Linked DNA regions of Homo sapiens: regions 1, 2 and 4 are each linked to region 3. The links come from fine-mapping of genetic effects on gene expression. A gene starts in region 3. Each other region holds a variant in brackets. All regions are shown on one strand. Distances are from middle to middle. Region 1 overlaps EIF4B (eukaryotic translation initiation factor 4B). Region 2 overlaps EIF4B (eukaryotic translation initiation factor 4B). Region 3 holds the start of EIF4B (eukaryotic translation initiation factor 4B). Region 4 overlaps EIF4B (eukaryotic translation initiation factor 4B).

Region 1 (5,778 bases), 21 kb after region 3:
GCTGGGATTACAGATGCGCACCACCACACCTGGCTAATTTTTGTATTTTTTAGTAGAGATGGGGTTTCACCACGTTGGCCAGCTGGTCTCTAACTCCTTACCTCAGATGATCTGCCTGCCTTGACCTCCCAAAATGCTGGGATTACAGGTGTGAGCCAGCGCTCCCAGCACAAGCATTTTAATTTTGTGAGGTACCTTTTGAGCTTTGTACTAAATATAATTGGGGAAGCAGTAAGGGATATGTATAATTCCTTTTAGAGGAGAGTCCTTAACCTTTTAAGATGTAGAAGGAAGAAGAATGGGTCATAGGTCTGAAAGAAGGATAAATCAGCAAGTTTATATCTGACTTTTTACATGACTTTGTGACACAGCAAAGCCTTGGGGAGAACTATGTGAGGTGATTAACTTCAGCATTTATGCAAGAGATTCTATTGTTAACAGGAAGAAATGGCTCTTGAAAGAAAAAGCAGACAATCAGACCAAGGGTCCTGTTTTGAGTCCAGGGGCATGACTTTTCTCACCTGAAACCTTGAATTTAGAGCAAGCAGAATGGATAACGAGTGAGTGTGCTGTTGTTATCCAAAGCTGCCCCAAAGTCAACTTAGTTAACCTGAATTAAAGATCCAGAGACTCCTGTCCCAAGCATTAGGCCAAAAAGAGAACCCCGAGGGGTGTTGGGGGGTATTACACTCAGTATTCCTATGAAATGTCAGTAATAGCATGTGCTGCTTTTCTCCAGCATGGATCTATGCTTTCTCAGGAAACACAAGCTTATCATAATTTCAGTATTACCCAAATAAAATTAAGTGTAAATCGCATCTCCAGAAATTAAAACCACATTTCAAAATAAACACAGGGCTGATTTTCTTATATGTGTCCTGTTTTAGATCATTTCTATAATCATTTTACTAACATTAGCATGTTCTTTAATATATAAAGTTTATAATACCAGGAAATGTTATGTCTGGTCAGTAAAAATTATGTGGTTTCCAAAATGAAATCATTATTTAAAAGACAGCAGCCACAAGAAAAAGATCCCTGGCCGGGCATGGTGGCTCACGCCTGTAATCCCAGCACTTTGGGAGGCGGAGGCGGGCGGATCATGAGGTCAGGAGATTGAGACCATCCTGGCTAACACGGTGAAACCCTGTCCCTACTAAAAATACAAAAAAAAAATTAGCCGGACACGTGTAACCTCAGCTACTGGGGAGGCTGAGGCAAGAGAATCGCTTGGACCCGGGAGGTGGAGGTTGCAGTGAGCCCGCGATTGTGCCACTGCACTCCAGCTTGGGCGACAGAGTGAGACTCCGTCTCAAAAAAAAAAGAGAAAGAAAAAGATCCCTGTTTGTCCCCCATACATAAATTATCAGCTCTTAAAACGTGTAGGTTGTTTTAGTTAGTTAATTTATATTTAGAAATTCAGATTTTTTTTTTAACTTTAAAATCTGGGTTGCCAGCTTCTCTCAGAAAATTGGAAGATCCTAGCAACAGTCAGCTGGAGCTAAATAGCAGCTATCCCTTTTACAAACAACATAACGCTACCCACAGTTTGCTATCTGAGCTACTACGTTTCTTTATACAGATTTCTAGTATTTAGGGTCCTCTGATACTGAAATGCACATGTGTGTGTAAAATATAGTTTATAACATAAACAACATTGCAATGAATGTCTTTGTACATGTATCTTTATCACACATCCAATTATTTCCTCAGTGAATTTCAAGAAATTAAATTGTTGGTCAAGAAGGGTATACATGACTTCAAATCTTTTCATGCATAGTTCTAATACAACTTTCAGTATTTATACTAATTTATTGATTTATTTATTTATTTTGAGAGGAAGTCTCACTCTGTCACCCAGGCTGGAGTGCCTTGGCACAATCTTGGATCATTGCAACCTCTGCCTCCCTGGCTCAAGTGATCCTTCCACCTCATCCTCCCAAGTAGCTGGGACCACAGGCCTGCACCACCATGCCCGGCTAATTTTTTGTATATTTGATAGAGTTGTGGTTTCACCATGTTGCCCAGGCTGGTCTCAAACCCCTGAGCTCAGGCAATCCACCAACCTCAACCTCCCAAAGTGTATTTGTACCATTTAAAATTATGATCAGCAGTGCAGAAATTGATTTAAGCTCCTAAAATTCAATAGAAAATTATGTCCTGTTAGTCATATGTTGCATATATTGTTTCTCATTTTGTTTGCCTCTTAAAGTGATCTTTGAGGCTGGGTGTTACGGCTCAGGCCTATAATCCCAGCACTTTGGGAGACCAAGGCTGGAGGATTGCTTAAGCCCGGGAGTCCAAGACCAGCCTGGGCAGCAGAGAGAGACTGTCTCTCAAAAAAAAAAAAAATTTTTTTTTTTTTTTTTTTTGAGACATAGTCTCACTCTCTCGCCAGGCTGGAGTGCGGGGGCATGATCTCAGCGCAACCTCCGCCTCCCGGGTTCACACCATTCTCTTGTCTCATCCTCCCAAGTAGCTGGGACTGCAGGTGTGCGTCACCACGCCCAGCTAATTTTTGTATCCTTAGTAGAGACGGGGTTTCACCATGTTGGCCAGGATGGTCTC[G/A]ATCTCTTGAACTCGTGATCTGCCCACCTCGGGCTCCCAAAGTGCTGCTGGGATTACAGGCATGAGCCACCGTGACCAGCTAAAAAAATTTTTTTAATTAAAAAATAAGTGGTCTTTGGGATCAAACATGGGAGATTCCCAACTGTATTGTTTTAGTGTCTTGTGCTTTGTTTTGTTTTTTGTTTTTGCATGTAAACCTCTTCTCCTTCTGGAAATTCATTATGGAATATTTAGGGATTTTTTAATTTCCAACCCACCCTTCCCAAATTATTAGCTGAGCAACAATTATTTCACCAGGGAAACTTTTTGAAGAAATCAGATAGAAAATTTAAATAAACAGATTCTTCCAAATTGGACTGATAGCTTACCGTGTTTCTATTAATGGTGTCAGAGAAAAGGGGATGGTGTTACTTGTCTGTTTCCTCTAGAGTATCGAGATCGTTATGATTCAGACCGGTATCGGGATGGGTATCGGGATGGGTATCGGGATGGCCCACGCCGGGATATGGATCGATATGGTGGCCGGGATCGCTATGATGACCGAGGCAGCAGAGACTATGATAGAGGTAATTGTAAAACATGTCGAATTGCTCTTTCAGTAACTTTGCCTTTTTTTTTTCCCCCTCCGCTGTGATGATTATAATTTGGGATATATTTACAGGCTATGATTCCCGGATAGGCAGTGGCAGAAGAGCATTTGGCAGTGGGTATCGCAGGGATGATGACTACAGAGGAGGCGGGGACCGCTATGAAGACCGATATGACAGACGGGATGATCGGTCGTGGAGCTCCAGAGATGATTACTCTCGGGATGATTATAGGCGTGATGATAGAGGTAATAGTTTTCTTTTTACGTACTTCATGGAGCAGAAACTGGGAAAACTACGGAAAATTTGTGATTGTGTTACGAACTACTGAGTTGGGCACAAATATAATTTGCACATTGTACAGGAAGCAGCAAAGCATAGTAGAAAGAGCATTGGCTGGCCAGGTGTGGGCAGATCACAAGGTCAGGAGATCGAGACCATCCTGGCTAATGGTGAAACCCCGTCTCTACCAGGTGTGGTGGCAGACACCTGTAGTCCCAGCTACTAGGGAGGCTGAGAGAGAAGAATGGTGGGAACCCGGGAGGCAGAGCTTGCAGTGAGTGGAGATGGCGCCGCTGCACTCCAGCCTGGGTGACAGAGTGAGACTCCCCATCTCAAAAAAAAAAAAAAAGCATTGGCTAAGGATGACATCAGTGGAAACACAGCAGTCGAATTGTTTTCATCTCATATGCCTTCACAGATAGATTTTTCAGTTAAAATTTATTGAATAAACAGTAGAAATGGAAAAAAAAGTTGCCAGATACTGTTATGTTGTGATCTCAGTAAATTACACTTAAAACAGATGGTTTTAGCTCCATTTTCCAAGTAAGGGAAATGAAATTCAGATTAAACATAGTCCTGTAGCCCATAATTGGTACTATGGGGTTAAAAACGAAGCATTAAGGCCAGGTGCAGTGGCTCACACCTGTAATCTCAGCACTTTGGAAGGCCAAGGTGGGCAGATCATTTGAGGTCAAGAGTTCGAGACCAGCCTAGCCAACATGGTGAAACCCCGTCTGTACTAAAAATACAAAAATTAGGTGGCCGTAGTGGCACATACCTATCATCCCAGCTACTCGGGTGGCTGAGGCAGGAGAATTGCTTGAGCCCAGAGGCAGAGGTTGCAGCGAGCTGAGATCGCACCACTGCACTCCAGCCTGGGCGACAGTGAGACTGTCTCAAAAAAAAAAAAGGATTGCTTTCTGTACCATTATACCACAATAATTGATGTTCATTAATTATAAAGGTGAGATTTTGGTGCACCTATTCTAAAATTATGCCCCTAATACTATAAGATATAAAATGTAAACTGTGTTACAAATCTAACCTGTTATAAAATACTAATAAATGGCCACCATTTGTGTTCTAACTTCAGTGATGTCATATAAAAGGTTATGGTATCTGGCCCAGAATTTTTTCTATCCTTTTTTTATTTTATTTTTTTTTTTTTGAGACGGAGTCTTGCTCTGTTTGTTGCCAGGCTGGAGTGCAGTGGCATGATCTCAGCTCACTGCAACCTTTGCGTCCTAGGTTCAAGCAATTCTCTTGCCTCAGCCTCCCGAGTAGCTGGGACTACAGGTGCACGCCACCATGCCCAGCTAATTTTTGTAGTTTTAGTAGAGACAGGGTTTCACCATGTTGGCCAGGCTGGTCTCAATCTCTTGACCTCGTGATCCGCCTGCCTTGGCCTCCCAAAGTGTTGGGATTACAGGCATGAGCCACCGTGCCCGGCCAAATTTTTCCTATCTTTAACATCTTTGTGTTAGTCCTAAACTTTGTGGCAATGGCTTTATATCCATCATCTCCTGTGATTCCCCAAGAAAGGAAAATCGATCTGGACAACTAATAAAACACAGTGAGATGACAGAATTCATCAGAGCCATATGGCAATTCTATTGCAGTGAGGTCTTTCCTTCTCCCTCAGAAAATGGTGAAGTCTTTACTCCTTCCTCAAAATAATAATAATAATTCAATGTTTGTTTTTTTTAAAAAAAACTTAGGCCAGCCATGGTGGCTCACATTTGTGATTCCAGCACTTTGAGAGGCCAAGGCAGGAGGATCACTTGAGTCCAGGAGTTCAAGACAAGCCCTGGCAACATAGTGAGACCCCATCTCTGCAAAAAATACAAAAGTTAGCTGAGCGTGGTAGCATGTGCCTGTAGTCCCCGTGTCTTAGGAGACTGAGGTAGGAGGGTCGCTTGAGCCTGGGAGGTCAAGGCTGCAGTTAGCCAAGGTCTCATTTCAGCTTGGGCAACATAGTGAGACCCCATCTCTGCAAAAAATATAAAAGTTAGCTGAGCGTGGTAGCATGTGCCTGTAGTCCCCGTGTCTTAGGAGACTGAGGTAGGAGGGTCGCTTGAGCCTGGGAGGTCAAGGCTGCAGTTAGCCAAGGTCTCATTTCAGCTTGGGCAACATAGTGAGACCCCATCTAAAAAATAATAAAATAGGAAATAGGTTTTAAAAAATTATATTCTTTTTTTTTTTTTTTTTTTTTTTTTGAGACGGAGTCTCTCTCTAGTTGCCCAGGCTAGAGTGCAATGGCGCGATCTCGGCTCACTGCAACCTCTGCCTCCCAGGTTCAAGTGATTCTCCTGCCTCAGCTTCCCAAGTAGCTGGGCTTGCC
Region 2 (5,778 bases), 37 kb after region 3:
AGCAGAAATGGTAATGACAGTGATATAATGCCTGGAACCTGGTTGGGCAGTAGGGGAGGGAGGTAGAAGGAAAAGTGTGAGATTTCTACCTTTTAGTTTTTATCCTATTGTGGCATATATGAATTCTCAAACATTATCTGAATAAATTTTCCACTCTTGGAAAGGTAGATTTAGCCTCAAGTTGTTCTAGTCTCCAGGAGGCTGCCAGCCCCTCCTCTTATTTAATTCTGAGTTTTGGGGGCCAGCCTAGAGGGAATTCCTTTTTTTTTTTTAACCCCCCAGGGGGGTAGTTGGGAGTGAGACTATAGGCCATAAAGAATGGGACTGCATTGGACCAAAATAAATGGGAAAATCGTGGTTTGAAAAGAAGCTTTTGGGAAGTGATGAGTCATTTTGCACCAGGTAATAGGGGAAAATTGTGTGACCTCCAGCAAACACATGAATGGTTATTTCCTGGAGCCGGAAGCACTTGGGGGTCGTGGTAATTCCCAGTGTTTTCTGTGTCCTAGTTTTACCCTTTCTAAACACTGTCCTTTTTGAAAGTTTTGAATATATCCACATTCTATTGAAACCTTGAAACTAAAAATTTAGACTCTTATCATCATCTTAAGTTCTTCATGCTACTCTTAACCTCCCAAAAAGCAGTATCTAAGTCACATACATGATGTCTTGGGCATTTTCTCAGCCATGGAGAACTCTGAAAGGAAGAATCGCTGCTTTTCTCAAGCAAATCGGTTTCTTGATGTCTTTTGGTTCTCCTTGCCTGCTCCTGATGCTTGGACCCCTTTTATTGATCAGAGTGCTCTAGAATAATGGATGGTCTTGGATGATGGATAAATAGGGACAGGGACAGTTAAATTGGGAGCCTTTCTTACAACCTTGATGGGATTTTTCCCCCCAAGTTTCCTTCTCCACTGAAATGCCACACTAATGCTTGTTGGATTCATGAGGTGGCCAGACCAATGTGTTGTTTTGTTGTTGTTTTTTTAAGCTTCCCTTGAGAGAATAAATGGTAATGGAGAGAACTATTTAACAAGGTCCTGGTTTCTCTTGCAACACAGTAGCTAAACTTGCCTGCTTTTATATGCATTTTTGTAGGGATCAGCTTGGTAGACAGTATTAGCGGAGAAACACCTTGATCTTGGTTTGCAAGCCCTTCTCCCATCAGTCCTAGATTAGGCCCTGTTCAGCCATGCAGGGGTGTTGGTTTATGCGTGCTGCAGCAGTGGGCATAATGAATATAATTTACCCAGTGGACAAAGGTGTGTACCAAGTGAATTTAAATAATTGGTGTGGATTGGCCAGTAGCTAAGAAGTGGGCTTTTAAAGAGTATTGAAGATTGAAAGGGTTTTTCTTTCTTTTTTAAAAAAGAAAAACAAACTATTGATTGTAGATAATGAAAAGCTAGGGTTTGCCCTCTTCATGTCTACTCTCCTTCCAAATAGTTATATCCAAAACTGTTTTTCCCTCTCCCCTACCTTGTCCCCCCTATTAAAATAGAAACAGGGATTGATTAATGTCCCGCTCCTGAATACATGTAAAATTTGTACAAAAATATCTTCTATGAAAATGATTTGTAATCTGTAGACTTATTACCTGGGAGATGTCTTGATGTAAAATCCCATCCTTTGGGTTGTGGGTTTTTTGTTTTCTCCAAATAAATCTGATCTTTAAAGTTCATTGTAATGCTGAAGTTCTTTGACAAATACTCTGCACTCCCAGTGGTTTTTACTGTAGTCATTGACCACCTGCTCCTCCTCCTCCTACCATCTCTGAAGTTTTCATTCAGTATTGGATACCATATTGTCCAAGATTAGAGGGTGGGGTTACAAGGGAATCTATTTCAGTGTTTATTGAGGCCCAATAATAGAGTTTGCATCCTAGCTCCCCTCTGGCTTTTTTTTTTTTTTTTTTTTTTTTTTTTGCCTGGTGTTAAATTTTTTAATCACCTGGATGTGCCTGCAGTCTATTTCCTGTACTGTTTATTTTAATCAAGATGTGGGAACTCTAAGAATGAATCCTTGTGTCCTTGGGGCAGTTCCCTCATAATCTCCCTCCCTCACTTCAGCAATCTGGAGAGATGCTGCTCCCTTGAGTTACACCGCACTGGTGGACCAGAGATACTGGTGACAGGCTGGTCGAGGTTACCAGAACAGAGGCTCACAGACTCAGTGGGAATTTTCCAAACAGCTAGGGACAGACTGGTCATTGTTGCAAGGCGGGAAAGGGGTTAGGACAGTGGCAGAGAATCCTTAAGGTCACAAGGAGGTGGAGCATAGAAAGGAGCCCGGGAAACCTCAGTCAACAATTTTGGGGATTTAAGAGCCAAGATGAGGAGCCAGTTAAATGATTTCCCAGCCAATTGGAGCAGCTGCTCTTCTAGTTTCTGGCCAGTGCATTTATCTCTGTTCTCCAAAACTGGTAAAGTTGAAGGCTATGAGACTCAGCTGTGATGATGTGAAGGCTTTTCAATGTGGGTTTAGGTGCCCCTATTGTCCAGGCTGCCTGGAAACCTACAAGGTAATGCTTTTTCACTGCCTC[T/C]CCACCACAGGAATCAGTTTCACTCACATTCTCCAAGCCTTTGTTTCAAGCCACTCTCAGCTGTGCAATAATGAGGTCTAGGTAAATGATGGAAAGAAGGAACATAAAAATAGGAAAGGCTTGTTGAAAGAGGTTTATGATGGCTGTGTACAGAAAGGGTAGAGAGGAAGGCCCTATGTCCCAAAAGGTACTCTAAAGTCAGAGAAAACCTGGGCTGTAATATGGCCACATCCTCATTTAAATTTAAAAAGACGTGTGTGGCCAGGTGCCATGGCTCACAGCTGTAATCCCAGCACTTTGGGAGGCCAAGGCGGGCACATCATGTGGTCAGGAGTTCTAGACCAGCCTGGCTAATAGGGTGAAACCCCGTCTCTACTAAAAATACAAAAATTAGCTAGGCATGGTGGTGTACACCTGTAGTCCCAGCTACTCAGGAGGCTGAGGCAGAAGAATCGCTTGAACCCGGGAAGTGGAGGTTGCAGTGGACCGGGATCGCACCACTGCACTCCGGCCTGGGTGACAGAGCGAGACTCTTGTCTCAATGGTTGCTCACACCTGTAATCCCAGCACTTTGGGAGGATGAGGCAGGAGAATCGCTTGAGCCTAGAAGTTTGAGACTAGTCAGGGCAACATGGCAAGACCCTGTCTCTACAAAAAAATAGAAAAATTATCCAGGTATGGTGGTGTATGCCCATAGTTGCAGCTACTTGGGAGGAAGGATCACTTGAACCCAGGAGGTCAAGGCTGCAGTGAGCTGTGATCACACCACTACACTCCAGCCTGGGCAACAGAGCAAGACCCTGTCTCAAAAAAAAAGTGTGGGTCCACCGAGAAGCCCCCCAGCTGCAGGAGTGGACCCAGGACTGGTCAGCCCTCATTGTCAACGTCTTGTAAATCTTGAACTAGTGGACGAGTAGGGGGAAAGTGCAGGTGCAGCAACCTACTTCAAAAGGGCTAACTTGAGGCTGATTAGGTCCCGTGTGTCTCCCAGTCCACATTAGCCTCGTTTCTTCTCAATAGAATCAAGCACTATACTCCGGATCCCAAGGCACTAGGGTCCCAGTTCGTGCTGAGGGCGTCGCCTCAAGTGCTAAGCGAGCTCACAGCATCTGGTTTCTCAGGAAGTGAGAGAGCTACACATCTGCTCCTGGGAAGCATTATTTGTCAAATAAGCCTTGTTTCTCAGCAACCATTGTAGCCCCCAGGGCCACAAGTAAAGGGGGGCTTGCCTTCCCTTACCCTCCCCCAAAAGAAATTTGGAAGAGACGAGCTGAGCTGCTCCCCGCCCAGCTACAGCAACCTCCAGCTTGGACAATACACCCTCTGTCCTCAGCCAGGAGATCCGCCTCTGGAGTTGGCTCTGCCCCTTCCCCCACTCTTCCTGGTTCCCAGCACCCAAACCCTCTACTGGAGTTCTCCTGACCCAGTGGTCTCCAGCCAGGACAGTCCCACACCTTCAAATCCTCCCCCTACAGTCCCCGCACCCCAAGGATCTGAGCACATTCAGTTACAGGCATGGGGTCACCCCAGACCATGGAAGAGGGGGTTCCATCTTCAGTGCCAAGATGGACCACCCTCTGCATAGTCAAGGTAAGAAAACCTGTGTGGAGGGAGGTCAGAGGTGCTCCTGAAATTGTTTGACCTTTACTAACATCAACCTGGCTTTCTCCTCCTCTCCTTCTTCCTCTCTGAAGCTCCTGCTGCTGTGAGCTGGAAATCAGGATGCCTGGCTGGCCCATGAACCACTCATTTTTGTTTCACTCCCACCAAGCTACCTCCTGTATAACTTCTCATTCTCAGCTTTTCTCAGCCCTTCCTGCAGCCCCCTTCTCCACTATCCCCACATTGAGAGTAGGAATCAAGCCTGAGCTGGGAGTTTGGCCACCCATCTTGTGACCCTTTTCCAATTCCTTGGAACCTCTAAAGTTCTTCCCATGGGCCTGCCAGGCAGCAGCAAAACCAGCATGTGTGAGGTTCTAGCCCTTACCCCTCACCTCTCTGGGGTCCAATCAAGTTCCTCTTTGAGTCCCAGTCTCTCCATTGGTAACTTTAGAGCTTAAGTAAAGGTACTCCCATGGCATCCATCCCAGAGCCCAGCCAAAGACCCTAAGGAATGCTGGGAAGAGCAAGATGTTAAAAGAGCTGGTTGAAGGCTCCAGAGACATGAACACACTTAATTATCTCATGATTCTCGATTACATAATCAAATCTGGCCAAAATACATGGGACAACCTTCAGCCTTGCCCTTTCTCCAGGAGCCTCCAATCCCTGCCACTTTCCTCGGTATTCCCCTAACTCTTGCCTCTCCCCTCCTCCCAGTGCCTCCCTACTCATTCCCGCCTGGCTTCCCCCACCCCCACCTCTCCTGTCCCCAGTCCCCAGTGACTCCCACTGCTCTAACCTCTGAAACTGTCTATTGGACACCAACTCAACCAAGAGCAGTAAGATCAAGGCTCCCCAGTCCCAACCATATCCACCCCTCCCAAATGCCAATTTCTGGGTGGGGGGGGACACACAGTCATCACGCACTTCTTCACAGACTCTTCTTCCCTGTGGCAAGATTGGAATCAGGTGCTCCACCCCCTGGAAATGAGAACCAGACTTCTCAGCCTTTGCCAAAGACAAGGGACCCAGTTGAGATGAGACGGGGAGGGAAAGAAGGCCTTAGAGCCAGTGGTACTGGCTACTTTGGGCAAGCACTGGGCATTGAGCCCTGGGCACTGGGTTCTCAGAATTCCAACCTTCCTTCCCCCCGCCCCTTTTCATCATGGAAAATCCAGCAGGGAGGGTGAAGGAGGGAGAAAGTTTCAGGAAGTGCTCACTGCTAAAGGACGTTGGGGGAATGTAGGAATGGCAACAGGTTCAGAACTTCTAGGAAGATGTCCCCTACCTTATCCCTACCCTCCACCTTCTGCTCCAGGGTGGCACGACTCAAACCTGCCCTACGGCCCATTAGCTCCATTCCATGAAGTTCCTATCCAGTACCAGGCACTGCAAAAGAAGGGAATGAGGTCAGACCATAGAAAGAACTTCCATCTCCATTTGGAAAGGCTGGACTCAAGTTAAATGTAAGGAAGACCTTCTCAGAGGTCTCCTGCGAACTGGGAATGACGGTCCAGCTCTTTAAAATAGGGCAATGGGCCGGGCACGGTGGCTCACGTCTGTAATCCCAGCACTTTGGGAGGCCAAGAAGGGGAAATCGCTTGAGCTCAAGAATTGGAGACCAGCCTGGGCAA
Region 3 (5,778 bases):
GGCTCAAGCCTGTAATCCCAGCACTTTGGGAGGCCAAGGCGGGCGGATCACGAGGTCAGGAGATCGAGACCATCCTGGCTAACACGGTAAAACCCCGTCTCTACTAAAAATACAAAAAAAATTAGCCGGGCGCGGTGGCAGGCGCCTGTAGTCCCAGCTATTCGGGAGGCTGAGGCAGGAGAATGGCGTGAATCCGGGAGGCGGAGCTTGCAGTGAGCCGAGATCGCGCCACTGCACTCTAGCCTGGGCGCCAGAGCGAGACTCCGTATCAAAAAAAAAAAAAAAAAAGAAAAGAAAAAGGAATAAAAGAATGGCTACTCCATAGGCAGAGAGCAGCAGCATGGGCTGCTTGACTAAGAATACTTACCGTTATTTCTTGATTATATGGGAAACACGGGGTGGATTATTCATGTTTTCCCTGGAAAGAGGAGGGCGATTCCCGAACTGAGGGTTCCTCCCCCTTCCTCACATTGCCATGGCATCTGTAAACTGTCATGTCCTGGTGGGAGTATCTTTTACCATGCTAACGAATTATATTTAGCATATAATAAGCAGTGAGGAGAGGTCAATTTAGTCGCCATCTTGGTTTTGATGGGATTTGGCTGGCTTCTTTACTGCATGCTGTTTTATGAGCAAGGTCTTTGTGACCTATAACTTGTGTTGACCTCCTGTCTCATCCTGTGATTAAGAATGCCTAACATTCTGGGAATGCAGCCCAGTAGGTCTCAGACTTATTTTACCCAGCCCTATTCAAGGAGTTGCTCCGGTTCAAACACCTCTGACAATTGCACTCTCCATTCAGTAGCCTGAGTAATCTCTTTTTTTCTAATTAACGCGTGACTTACATAAAGTACACAAATCTTAAGTATTCACAAATCTTAAGTATACGAATTCTAGATATACACCCATGTAACCACCACTCACATCAGGATACTAAGTAATCCTTTTTAAAATTTTATTTCAACTCATGACATTTCTCTGCCTTAAATCATTCCACACTTTCCCAATCCCCTCACATGATCAGCCTCACATGATCCAGCCCCTCTCTCTCAAGATTCATCCTGTACCACTCCTCCCTCCCCTGCCCTCACCATATTGCAGCAAACCCAACTGCGCATCCTGTCTTCTCCTAAACCTCTTCAGAAGACATTCCCAGGGATGGCAGCTTGTAATTTAGACCTCTGTCTGAATGTCACTTCCTCAGAGGTCTACTCTGACAGGCAATCTAAAGTTGCACCTAATAACTTATTACACCACCTTGTTTTAATTACTCACAGAATACTTGTTGTAATATTTTATTAGTTGCTTATTATCTGTCCTTCCCCCACTAGAATATAACCTCTTTTGGGACAGTTCTATTCCATGTTGTACCCGCAAGTGTCTGTGCCTGGCACACGGTGGGAAACAAAAATTTTCATTTAATGAATGAAATGGAACATCAGCTAGGGGAAGCATGAATAGCCCTAGTCTCAGAAATCCTAAAGGCCTAAGTTGGACTAAACCTAGTCAGCAAATTGGACCATTAAATGAGGTAAAAGCCCATGACAATTAAGTGTTCAGCATTTGTTACCTTCTTATTCCGTCTAAATATGCCTCATTAAAACCATTCTTACACAAGACGTTCGATTTGTTTTGCCTTTACAAAAAGTAATTTGAAAACAAACAGTGGTTGATGCCTGTAATCCCGGCACTGTGGGAGGCCTCGGAGGGAGGAATGCTTGAGTCCAGGAGTTCGAGACCAGCCCAGGCGACACAGGGAGACACACCGCCCCCCCCAAGCCCGCCACTCTGTCTCCACACAAAGACTTTTTTTTAATTAGCTGGTCCTGGAGGCACTCGCCTGTGGTCCCAGCTACTCAGGAGGCTGAGGTGGAAGAACTGCTTGAGCCCCGGAGGTTGAGGCTGCAGTGAGCCGAGATCGCGCCACTGCACTCCAGCTTGGGAGACAGGGCGAGACCCCGTCTCAAAAAATAAAAATAAATAAAAATAAAATCAGTGATTTCTGATGTGGCTTTTAAAAACTAGGCCGGGCGCGGTGGCTCACGCCTATAATCCAGCACTTTGGGAGGCCGAGGCGGGTGGATAGCCTGAGACCAGGAGTTCAAGACCAGCATGGCCAATATGGTGAAATATCCCGTTTCTACTAAAAATACAAAAAACTAGCAGCGAATGGTGGTGGGCGCCTGTAATCCCAGCTACTCCAGAGGCTGAGGCAGGTGAATCGCCTGAACCCGAGAGGCGGGGGTTGCAATGAGCCGAGGTCGCGCACGCCATTGCACTCCAGCCCGGACAACAGGAGCGAAACTCCGTCTCAAAAAAGTACATTAAACTCAGAATCTTCCCTTTCAGCACATCCATTTCGCCACACCCATCACCGGCTCCGTGCAGAGTAAGCAGAAGCAGCAGCGAAGCCCCGCCCTTCCCGCCACTCTTCCGGCAGGAAGTCTGTGCGTCAGGAGGCCGGCCAGGACTCAGCTCCAGCCCCGCGCTCGCGTGTAGCCCTACGTAAAGCGTGAGGGGTTTCGCGACAACCCAGGCCCCGCCCCTTTGGCCACATGTCGCGCATGTCTTCCCGTCGGACGGCGTGCCACCTCGCCGCGCAGCTTTACGAACCTAGAGCAGCGCCGCCCCGCCTCCTGTCTCCGTCCTCACCTCCCCGCCCCCTCCCAGCTTCGCGTCTCCTAGCTCGACGCGCCCGCTATAATCACGTGATTGCCTCATCCGGGTCTTTTGCGTTCTCTTTCCCTCTCCCAACATGGCGGCCTCAGGTGAGCGAGCAGCCGAGCGCGGCCAAGGACTGGGCTCTGAAACCCCCCTCCGAGCGTGATCCACTGATTTCCTGAAGTCGGGGAATTGCTGGCACTGGTTCCTTTCTGAATTGAGGGCTGCGGCAGGCTGGCGGCGTGGCCCTGTTAGGTTACTGCCTCTGGATGTTTGGGGGGGAGGGGAAGGACACCTTCCCCTCCCCCTCACACTCTTTTCACCCTTTCTGCGCGAGATTGGAATAGGCAGTAATGGTAGACTCTGGCTTGAATTGGGGAAGGAGGCGCAGAAAGGTGTGCGGGTGGTGCGAGGCCTTTTCGTAGACGTGAATCACCGTGCCCGCGTGAAGGCGTGGAGGAAGGAAGGAGGCGGTTGCTGCGCGGACGAGTGCACATTAGACTACGTCTCCAAGGCGCGAGGCTGTAGCGGACCGGAGTGGGGGGTAGGGGAGTAAGTGTGGTGGGGGGGAGCAGTTGGAACGCGAGCGCGAGTTGGTGGAGGGGCGGGGGAAGGCAGCGGTGCGCGTGCGCGGTAGGAGACACGAGGGTAGTAGAGACGGGCGCGCCTTCAATGCGTGCGCTAGAACCCAGATGGGAAGCTTTTTAACGCGCCTGTGTTGCGCACTTATGTCCTTTTAGGTTGTCTCTTCCCTTTCTAGAGTGTGGGCCCTGTGCCTGTATTCTTCTAAGGGTGTGTGTGTTAGCCTTGGAGGTTGGTGCTATTGGCGTTAGATGGGGGTGGGGAATCCAGTTAGGTGCGCCCACGTGTTGGAGAAGCACCGGTGTGCACCTAGATTTCCTTCTAGGCTTTTTTCTCATACTCAATTGGAGGCATTTTTTACTCAGCGCAGCTATATGCCAGGATCAGGTTTCGCTTCCGGCGCTTCCATGTTGGTTGAATTTGGATAGCTCCAATGGTAGATTTCAGCCTTTTTTTTTTTTTTTTTTTTTTTTTTTTAAGGTAACTGTGCAACTACCAGCAGGTACTTTTAAAATAGTGCTTACTAATGGCTGGAGTTGCTTACTTCTTTAGACAACCTTGGAGGGGAGTATCAGTGCCTTGCAAGTCTAATTACATTTCTAATGGGCTTATAAAAGCAGTGATGACCCAACATCTTGTAGCATTGATTTTAGTTTGAGGAATATAGTTTGTTTTCTCTGGCATGACCTTGCATTCTTCAAAACATTATTTGAACTTCTATCTCTGGGTGCTCATTTCTTACCTAGTAATTCATCGTCTCTATTACAAAGAAGCTAAGGGTTTTGGTTGGCTTTGGAAAATGTTGAGAAATTTGAGGTGCATTTGAACATCTTTCATTGGTGTAACGCTTGACAGTTGACCAAGCACTTTTGTGCATGTTGTCTCCTTCCATCCTGAGGTACTGCAGAGAGCTAGTGGTATTTCTCAGCTAAGGAATATTATTTAAGGCCACACTGCTCTCAGCTGGCAGAGCAAGGTCATAATCTTTGAGACTCCTTAGCAACTTAAAAGTATCAAGGTGTCATCATCAGTTTAGGACGCTGCCCGAAAGCATCTGAAGTTTACAAAAATGTTCATATTTTTTTCTCCAGTGGGCTAGTAAAAGTCCTAAATATATTTTAAACTAACCATTGCTTAAAGTACTTACTTGGTCTGGATTTGCCACCTTAACAGTTTAGTATCGTAATTTAGTGAAGAAAATCTGTGTTTTCTTAACTTTTGTGTAATTTTTAGAGGCGGAACATAGGACAGCAATTCATGTCCTTCGTTTTACCGAGTTGAGGGAAATCCAGACTGATAAAAGGGATTTACTCTGACGTCCCATTCTCTTGTTCTTCCATATTTACTCTACCCCCTTGAAAACCCTCATCTCCTTTAATTCACTTCAGTAAATCTTTTTAGCTGGTACTGGTATCTGAGCACAAGTCACATCTTTCAGTCTGTTCTTGAGGAATCTGGGGTTTATCGGATTGTTTCCCCGCTCCTCTTTCCAGTCACACTGGCTTTGTGAAGTAACCAGTATTCCCTGATGTGGGAAATGGATGTTATGTGTTCTGTGTGAAAATACATAAAACAACTTCATACGCCTCTTTTACTGTTAAATGAGACCAAAAAATTCTTTGCAGCAATACCAGTTTCCAGTGTGATCCATTATTGACCTTCAAGAACTAAGGTAGGTCTCAGAACTAACTATAGAATGAGGATAGTTTGAATTCCTAGAAACTTGATACATTGAGCCAGTACACTTAATTCCTTGCTTTGCTTCTTAAAAAGAATTCTTAAAGGCCGGGCGCGGTGGCTCACGCCTGTAATCCCAGCACTTCGGGAGGTCGAGGCGGGCGGATCACTAGGTCAGGAGTTGGAGACCAACCTGACCAACATGGTGAAACTCTGTCTCTACTAAAAATACAAAAATTAGCTGGGCGTGGTGTCGCGTGCTTGTAATCCCAGCTACTCCGGAGGCTGAGGCAGGAGAATCGCTTCAATCTGGGAGGGGGAGATTGCAGTGAACCGAGATTGTGCCATTGCACTCCAGCCTGGGCAAAAGAGCAAGACTCCATTTCAAAAAAAAATCTTAAAAATACGAAGTTTTTCATTTTTCTTAAATTTTCATTGTGACTACTTTAGTAGACTTGCCAGTAATAAGCCAGTTACCGCTTGAATCTCAGTTTCTTTATCTGGAAAGTGGTCATTATTTATCTGCTGTCCCCTTACCTAGAGGGAATCAAATGCGTTTGATACAGGTTAACATTTAAAATGCTTTCAAATTGGGCAGGGTGCAGTGGCTCATGCCTGTAATCCCAGCACTTTGGGAAGCTGAGGTGGGTGAAACACCTGAGAACAGGAGTTCGAGACCAGCCTGGCCAACATGGTGAAACCCAGTCTCCACTAAAAATACAAAAATTAGCGGGGTTTTGGGCTGGGCGTGGTGGCTCACGCCTGTAATCCAGGAGGCAGAGGTTGCAGTGAATTGAGATTGCACCACTGCCCTCCGGCCTGGGCGACAGAGCGAGACTCCGTCTCAAAAAAAAAAAA
Region 4 (5,674 bases), 30 kb after region 3:
CTCTGCTAGTACCTCCCAGTCCACTCGAGCTGCTTCTATCTTTGGAGGGGCAAAGCCTGTTGACACAGCTGCTAGAGAAAGAGAAGTAGAAGAACGGCTACAGAAGGAACAAGAGAAGTTGCAGCGTCAGCTGGATGAGCCAAAACTAGAACGACGGCCTCGGGAGAGGTGTGTTGTCTTGATGGATATCCCATCTAGGAATCCGGTGGTTCGTAATGGGGGCATTACATCCCCAGGGGCATTTGGGAAATTTGTGTCGTTATCACATTAGTGGTTGTCACTGATGGGCATTTAGTGGGCTGTGGCCAGGGGTGTTAGGCAGTATGCAGTGTTAGGGACAGTTTTACACAATGAAGAGTTGTTCCCTGTCCATTACAAAAGTGTTTACTATTAAAAGCTGGTATTGTATCTAAAAGGCTAGAGACCTACTATAATAAGTAATTGCCCTGAAAAACTAGGCCTGGTAATGAGTGGCTTGTAGAACTGTGTTGATTAGTAAAGAAGGGCAGTATTGTAGATTATGTAGGATACTGTTCTTAACCATATTAGTTGATTCTTGCTGAAGTATTTAGGGCCAAAGTGTGTCTTAATGTCTGTAGCTTTCAAATAGTTTGAGGGAAAGATAAATTTATATGCATATACACATATAGATGAAGTAAGTGATGGTTCTTGAGGGGTCAGCATGGGTCTAAGGTGGCCTTCACTGAGCCAGGCATAATGTGTATTTTGTGAATCTCTCGTACAGACACCCAAGCTGGCGAAGTGAAGAAACTCAGGAACGGGAACGGTCGAGGACAGGAAGTGAGTCATCACAAACTGGGACCTCCACCACATCTAGCAGAAGTAAGTCAGACCAGGGTGGGTATCGTGTTATTGCCGTTTTCCATAAACTATCCATAACCAAATTATGCAGAGACCCTGCAATATTTAAATTCAGTCATGAACTCTTTATTTGGGTTGCATGGGCCGATTGGAGTTTCATATCTTCTGCTCCAAAGAATCTGAGGAATGGGTACCAGAGTAGACCTAGATGATCTGCTTAATAATCTACCACTGAAGTGTATACTTGGTTGTTAGGTTTGTCTCTCTCTTTTTTTTTTTTTTTTTTTTTTGGTATATTTTCATTTTATGTCTTGACATCTTTGAATGTTGTTTATTCAGAACAGTCAACGGCTTGGAGTTTCATGTGAGCTGTCCCAAGACCAGCCTTTTTTGATGTTATCATCACCAGAGCAGTGTTCTCAAGCAGTGTTATTACTGGTTGATCAAGCACTTTTAGTGTTTTGGAAACCTAAATGGTTCAATTGTAATACCTCCCTTCCCTTACCATGATGTGTTTTTTTTGTATTTTGTTTTGAGACAGGGTCTTACTCTGTCACACAGGCTGGAGTGCAGTGGCATGATGATGGCTCACTGTAGCCTCACCTCCCTCAGCCCTCAGCCTCCCTAGTAGCTGGAACTGTAGGCATGCACCACTACACCCAGCTAAATTTTTTATTTATTTATTTTCTTTTTTTTTTGAGACCGAGTCTCGCTCTGTCGCCCAGGCTGGAGTGCAGTGGCGCGATCTCGGCTTACTGCAAGTTCTGCCTCCCGGGTTCATGCCATTCTCCTGCCTCAGCCTCCCGAGTAGCTGGGACTACAGGTGCCCACCACCACACCCAGCTAATTTTTTGTATTTTTAGTAGAGATGGGGTTTCACTGTGTTAGCCAGGATGGTCTCAATCTCCTGACCTCATGATCCACCCGACTCGGCCTCCCAAAGTACTGGGATTACAGGCGTCAGCCACCGCACCCAGCCTACACCCAGCTAAAATTTTGTAGAGATGGTTTCCCCATGTTGCCCAGGCTGGTCTCAGCCTCATAAAGTGCTGGGATTCCAAGGGCCAGCCACTGTGATATTTTTTAAGGTCTTTCCTCCCACCTCTAAATTGATTTGTACTTGCATTTCATTCATTTATTTATTTATTGAGATGGAGTCTCGCTCTGTTACCAGGCTGGAGTGCAGTGGCACGATTTTGGCTCACTGCAACCTCTGACTCCCTGGTTCAAGCAATTCTCCTGCCTCAGCCTCCTGAGTAGATGGGATTACAGGTGAGCGCCACCATGCCCGACTAATTTTTTGAACGGGCTGGTCTCAAACTCCTAACCTCATGATCCACCCGTCTCGGCCTCCCAAAGTGCTGGGATTACAGACGTGAGCCACCATGCCTGGCCTTCTATTTTTTTTATTTTTTATTTTTGTATTTTATTTATTTATTTTGAGACGGAGTTTCGCTCTTTTTGCCCAGGCTGGAGTGCAATGGCATGATCTCAGCACACTGCAACCTCTGCCTCCCGGGTTCAAGTGATTCTCCTGCCCAAGCCTCCCGAGTAGCTGGGATTACAGGAGTCTGCCACCAGGCCTGGCTAATTTTTTGTATTTTTAGTAAAGACGGGGTTTCACCATGTTGGCCAGGATTGTCTCCATCTCTTGATCTTGTGATCTGCCCGCCCTGGCCTCCCAAAGTGCTGGGATTACGGGCGTGAGCCGCCGTGCCCGGCCTAGTTTTTTATTTTTAAGACAGGGTTTCATTCTCACCCAGGCTGGAGTGCAGTGGTGCGATCATAGCTCACTGCAGCCTCAAACTCCTGGCCTCAAGCAATCCTCTTGCCCCAATATCCCAAGTAGCTGTTATACGACGGGTGCACGCAACCATGCCTGGCTAAATTTAAAAAATTTGTTTTTTTAGAGATGGGGTCTCACTACACTCCCCAGGCTGGTCTCAAACTCCTGGCCTCAAGCAATCCTGCCTCAGCCTCCCAATGGGGGCTCCTTGTTTTTAGAAGACACTTAACTGCATTTTTTAAAAAACGCA[C/T]GTGTAGGTTGTTGTTTTTTGAGATGGAGTCTCACTCTGTCAGCCAGGCTGGAGTGCAGCAACATGATCACAGCTCACCTCATCATTTCTAGTAGCTGGGACTGCAGGCACATGCCACATCCAGCTAATTTGTCTATTTTTTGTAGAGCTGGGGTTTCACCATGTTGTCCAGGCTGGTCTGAAACTCTTAGGCTCAAACGATCCGCCCCCAACAGCCTCCCAATATCCTAAGATTACAGGCGAGAGCCACTGCACCCAGCCAGTAGGTGGTTTTTCATAAATATGATTGCATCATAGTCCATGTGTGTTGAGTTTTAAGCTGAAGTTGAGCAGTGGTTACTAGAGTTTGGGGTTTCATTGTAGGTCCTCTTCACATATGTATATTCTCCAGGTCAAGACACTTTTAACATTGAGAATGCAGAAAGGCTGTAAAGGATACTCATTCCTAAAAAGGTCACATGGCTGGGTGTCCCTTAAGTTGTATACATGGTCATTATTTTTTCTATTTCTCTGTGCATCAGTAAGACATTGTTCTGGAAATACTTGTAAACCACTGGTTTAGGGATAAATCCATCTTTGGGAGCCAAAACTTGGATGTGGACCATTTTCCACACTGTTGAGATCCTGGTAGATGCGTGAGCATCTGCAGCCTGATAATTTGATATTTTCACTCTGGCTTCACAGATGCACGAAGGAGAGAGAGTGAGAAGTCTCTAGAAAATGAAACACTCAATAAGGAGGAAGATTGCCACTCTCCAACTTCTAAACCTCCCAAACCTGATCAGCCCCTAAAGGTAATGCCAGCCCCTCCACCAAAGGAGAATGCTTGGGTGAAGCGAAGTTCTAACCCTCCTGCTCGATCTCAGAGCTCAGACACAGAGCAGCAGTCCCCTACAAGGTGAGTCAGTTTGGAAACAGTAGTTGGTTAACTGCAGATTCTAAAATACTGTGATGTAATGATGGAAGATCTCCTACGGGATGCCAGCGTTGTATAGCACCTTATAAGTTATGCTGGCTTTAGTCTCTTAGTGTGCTGGAACTGGCTCATAAGACCTAGTTGTTCCATTTTCTGGAGTTCCACCACTTTGATAGCTTGAAATCAGCTATGATGGGAGTACTAATGCCGCACAAATCTGCAAATACTGTAAGTCAGAGGCTTCCCTTTTGCCACATATTGGCAGTATGGTAGGGGGTAACTTCCTTTCATTTCTCTTAAGTCTTCTCATTTGTAAGCAAAATAGCAACACTATTAGCCTGGCGTGGTGGCAGGTACCTGTAATCCCAGCTACTCGGGAGGCTGAGGCAGGAGAATTGCTTGAACCTGAGAGCGGAGGTTGCAGTGAGCCGAGATGTGCCATTGCACTCCAGCCTGGGCGACAGAGTTAAGACTCCAAAAGAAAAGAAAATAGCAATACTAATCCTGCATGATGTGATGATTAGAAAGCATATGGCACTTTAGTGTTCAAATTACTGCTTTCATTGTAATCTTTCCCATATTTTAATGTTCCATAACATTGAGTATGATTTTGTTTTCTATAAAGCTTACCCACTGCATTTGGAGGATGATTATGTTTCTTGGTTGTTTTCTCCCTGAAACAACTGATGAATGTGATTACCTGTTTTCCTTCTAGTGGTGGGGGAAAAGTAGCTCCAGCTCAACCATCTGAGGAAGGACCAGGAAGGAAAGGTGAGCTCATAGTATGGGAAATAGGTTTTTCACCTAGAAGCCTAAATAAAAAGGCCTCCAAAATTAGATTTTGAAGAGCAGTGTGTCTCGCACCTGATACCGTGTTAAGAGTTCTTGGGTTGGCCAGGCGCAGGGGCTCACACCTGTAATCCCAGCACTTTGGGAGGCCAAGGCGGGCAGATCACAGGGCAGGAGTTTGAGACCAGCCTTACCAACATGGTGAAACCCCGTCTCTATTAAAAATACAAAAAAAATTAGCCGGGTGTGGTGGCACATGCCTGTAATCCCAGCTACTCGGGAGACGCTGAGGCAGGAGAATTGCTTGAACCCGGGAGACGGAGGTTGCAGTAAGCCAAGATGGCCCCACTGCACTCCAGCCTGGGCGACAGAGCAAGACTCTGTCTCAAAAAAAAAAGAATTATTGGGTTATCTACCTTTTCTTGCCAGTAGAGGGAGGAGTGGCCTCTTTGGAGAAAGTATGAAACCCTGCCCTTTCCTGGTAGAACATTTCTTTGACGGGGAGAAAAAAATCGGAAGGAAATTAACCAAGGTCACTACAGAGCGTCATAATCTTTATTTCCAGCTTGCTTTTCATGATGGCATATCCCTACATGGAACTTTTTAGTGGATTTTGTTTGTTTTTTGTATTTTTGTGTGCTGTAGAGGATGTGGAAAGAAGGGCTTCAGGAAGGAAGTCTGGGTTGGGGTGAGGTTAGTTTCCCTCAGTACATGTGGGCACAATTTTCTTCAGCTTAAGGGAAATCTTAGGAGAGGGACATTGATACTTTTACTTGCCTTTAATTTGTTTACATTACTGCCCAAGCAGATGAAAATAAAGTAGATGGGATGAATGCCCCAAAAGGCCAAACTGGGAACTCTAGCCGTGGTCCAGGCGACGGAGGGAACAGAGACCACTGGAAGGAGTCAGATAGGTATGCTTGTTCTCTTTCTCATCTTTCCTCTGATCCACATGTTTGTGTAATTAAGAAATTAAGTTCTTGGTTCTCAGAGCACTGCCAGATCGCTCATTGTGAGCAAACTAAAGTCAGCCAACGTAGACAGTTAAGATTCTGAAAATCTAGAAGTAATACATCATCCAGACAACAAGGACTGTTGACTAGAGGTGCCT

Evidence for each region. PIP is the estimated chance that this variant, and not a neighbour inherited with it, causes the effect. A credible set is the group of variants that fine-mapping cannot tell apart.
Region 1: its variant is the best candidate, but not a certain one, in a credible set for the expression of EIF4B in whole blood (TOPMed, PIP 0.67).
Region 2: its variant is the best candidate, but not a certain one, in a credible set for the expression of EIF4B in whole blood (TOPMed, PIP 0.64).
Region 4: its variant is the best candidate, but not a certain one, in a credible set for the expression of EIF4B in whole blood (TOPMed, PIP 0.56).

What each region holds. Positions count from the first base shown.
Region 1 is chr12:53,024,786-53,030,563 of GRCh38, forward strand. EIF4B (eukaryotic translation initiation factor 4B) reads left to right here. Exons shown (of 15, transcript NM_001417.7): 7 at 2,997-3,134; 8 at 3,230-3,403. Among named protein-coding and RNA genes, the nearest start is that of EIF4B, 21 kb to the left of the region's middle. The variant G/A (reference allele first, on the strand shown) is at 2,569.
Region 2 is chr12:53,040,529-53,046,306 of GRCh38, forward strand. It overlaps EIF4B (eukaryotic translation initiation factor 4B), which reads left to right. Exons shown (of 15, transcript NM_001417.7): 15 at 1-1,687. TNS2-AS1 (TNS2 antisense RNA 1) reads right to left here. Exons shown (of 4, transcript NR_033854.1): 3 at 5,433-5,533; 4 at 2,661-5,125. Among named protein-coding and RNA genes, the nearest start is that of TNS2, 6.6 kb to the right of the region's middle. The variant T/C (reference allele first, on the strand shown) is at 2,543.
Region 3 is chr12:53,003,729-53,009,506 of GRCh38, forward strand. EIF4B (eukaryotic translation initiation factor 4B) reads left to right here and starts at 2,728. Exons shown (of 15, transcript NM_001417.7): 1 at 2,728-2,768. The coding sequence starts at 2,756. RefSeq lists enhancers at 2,099-2,842, 2,843-3,586.
Region 4 is chr12:53,033,867-53,039,540 of GRCh38, forward strand. EIF4B (eukaryotic translation initiation factor 4B) reads left to right here. Exons shown (of 15, transcript NM_001417.7): 9 at 1-168; 10 at 746-843; 11 at 3,543-3,756; 12 at 4,490-4,545; 13 at 5,372-5,477. Among named protein-coding and RNA genes, the nearest start is that of TNS2, 13 kb to the right of the region's middle. The variant C/T (reference allele first, on the strand shown) is at 2,859.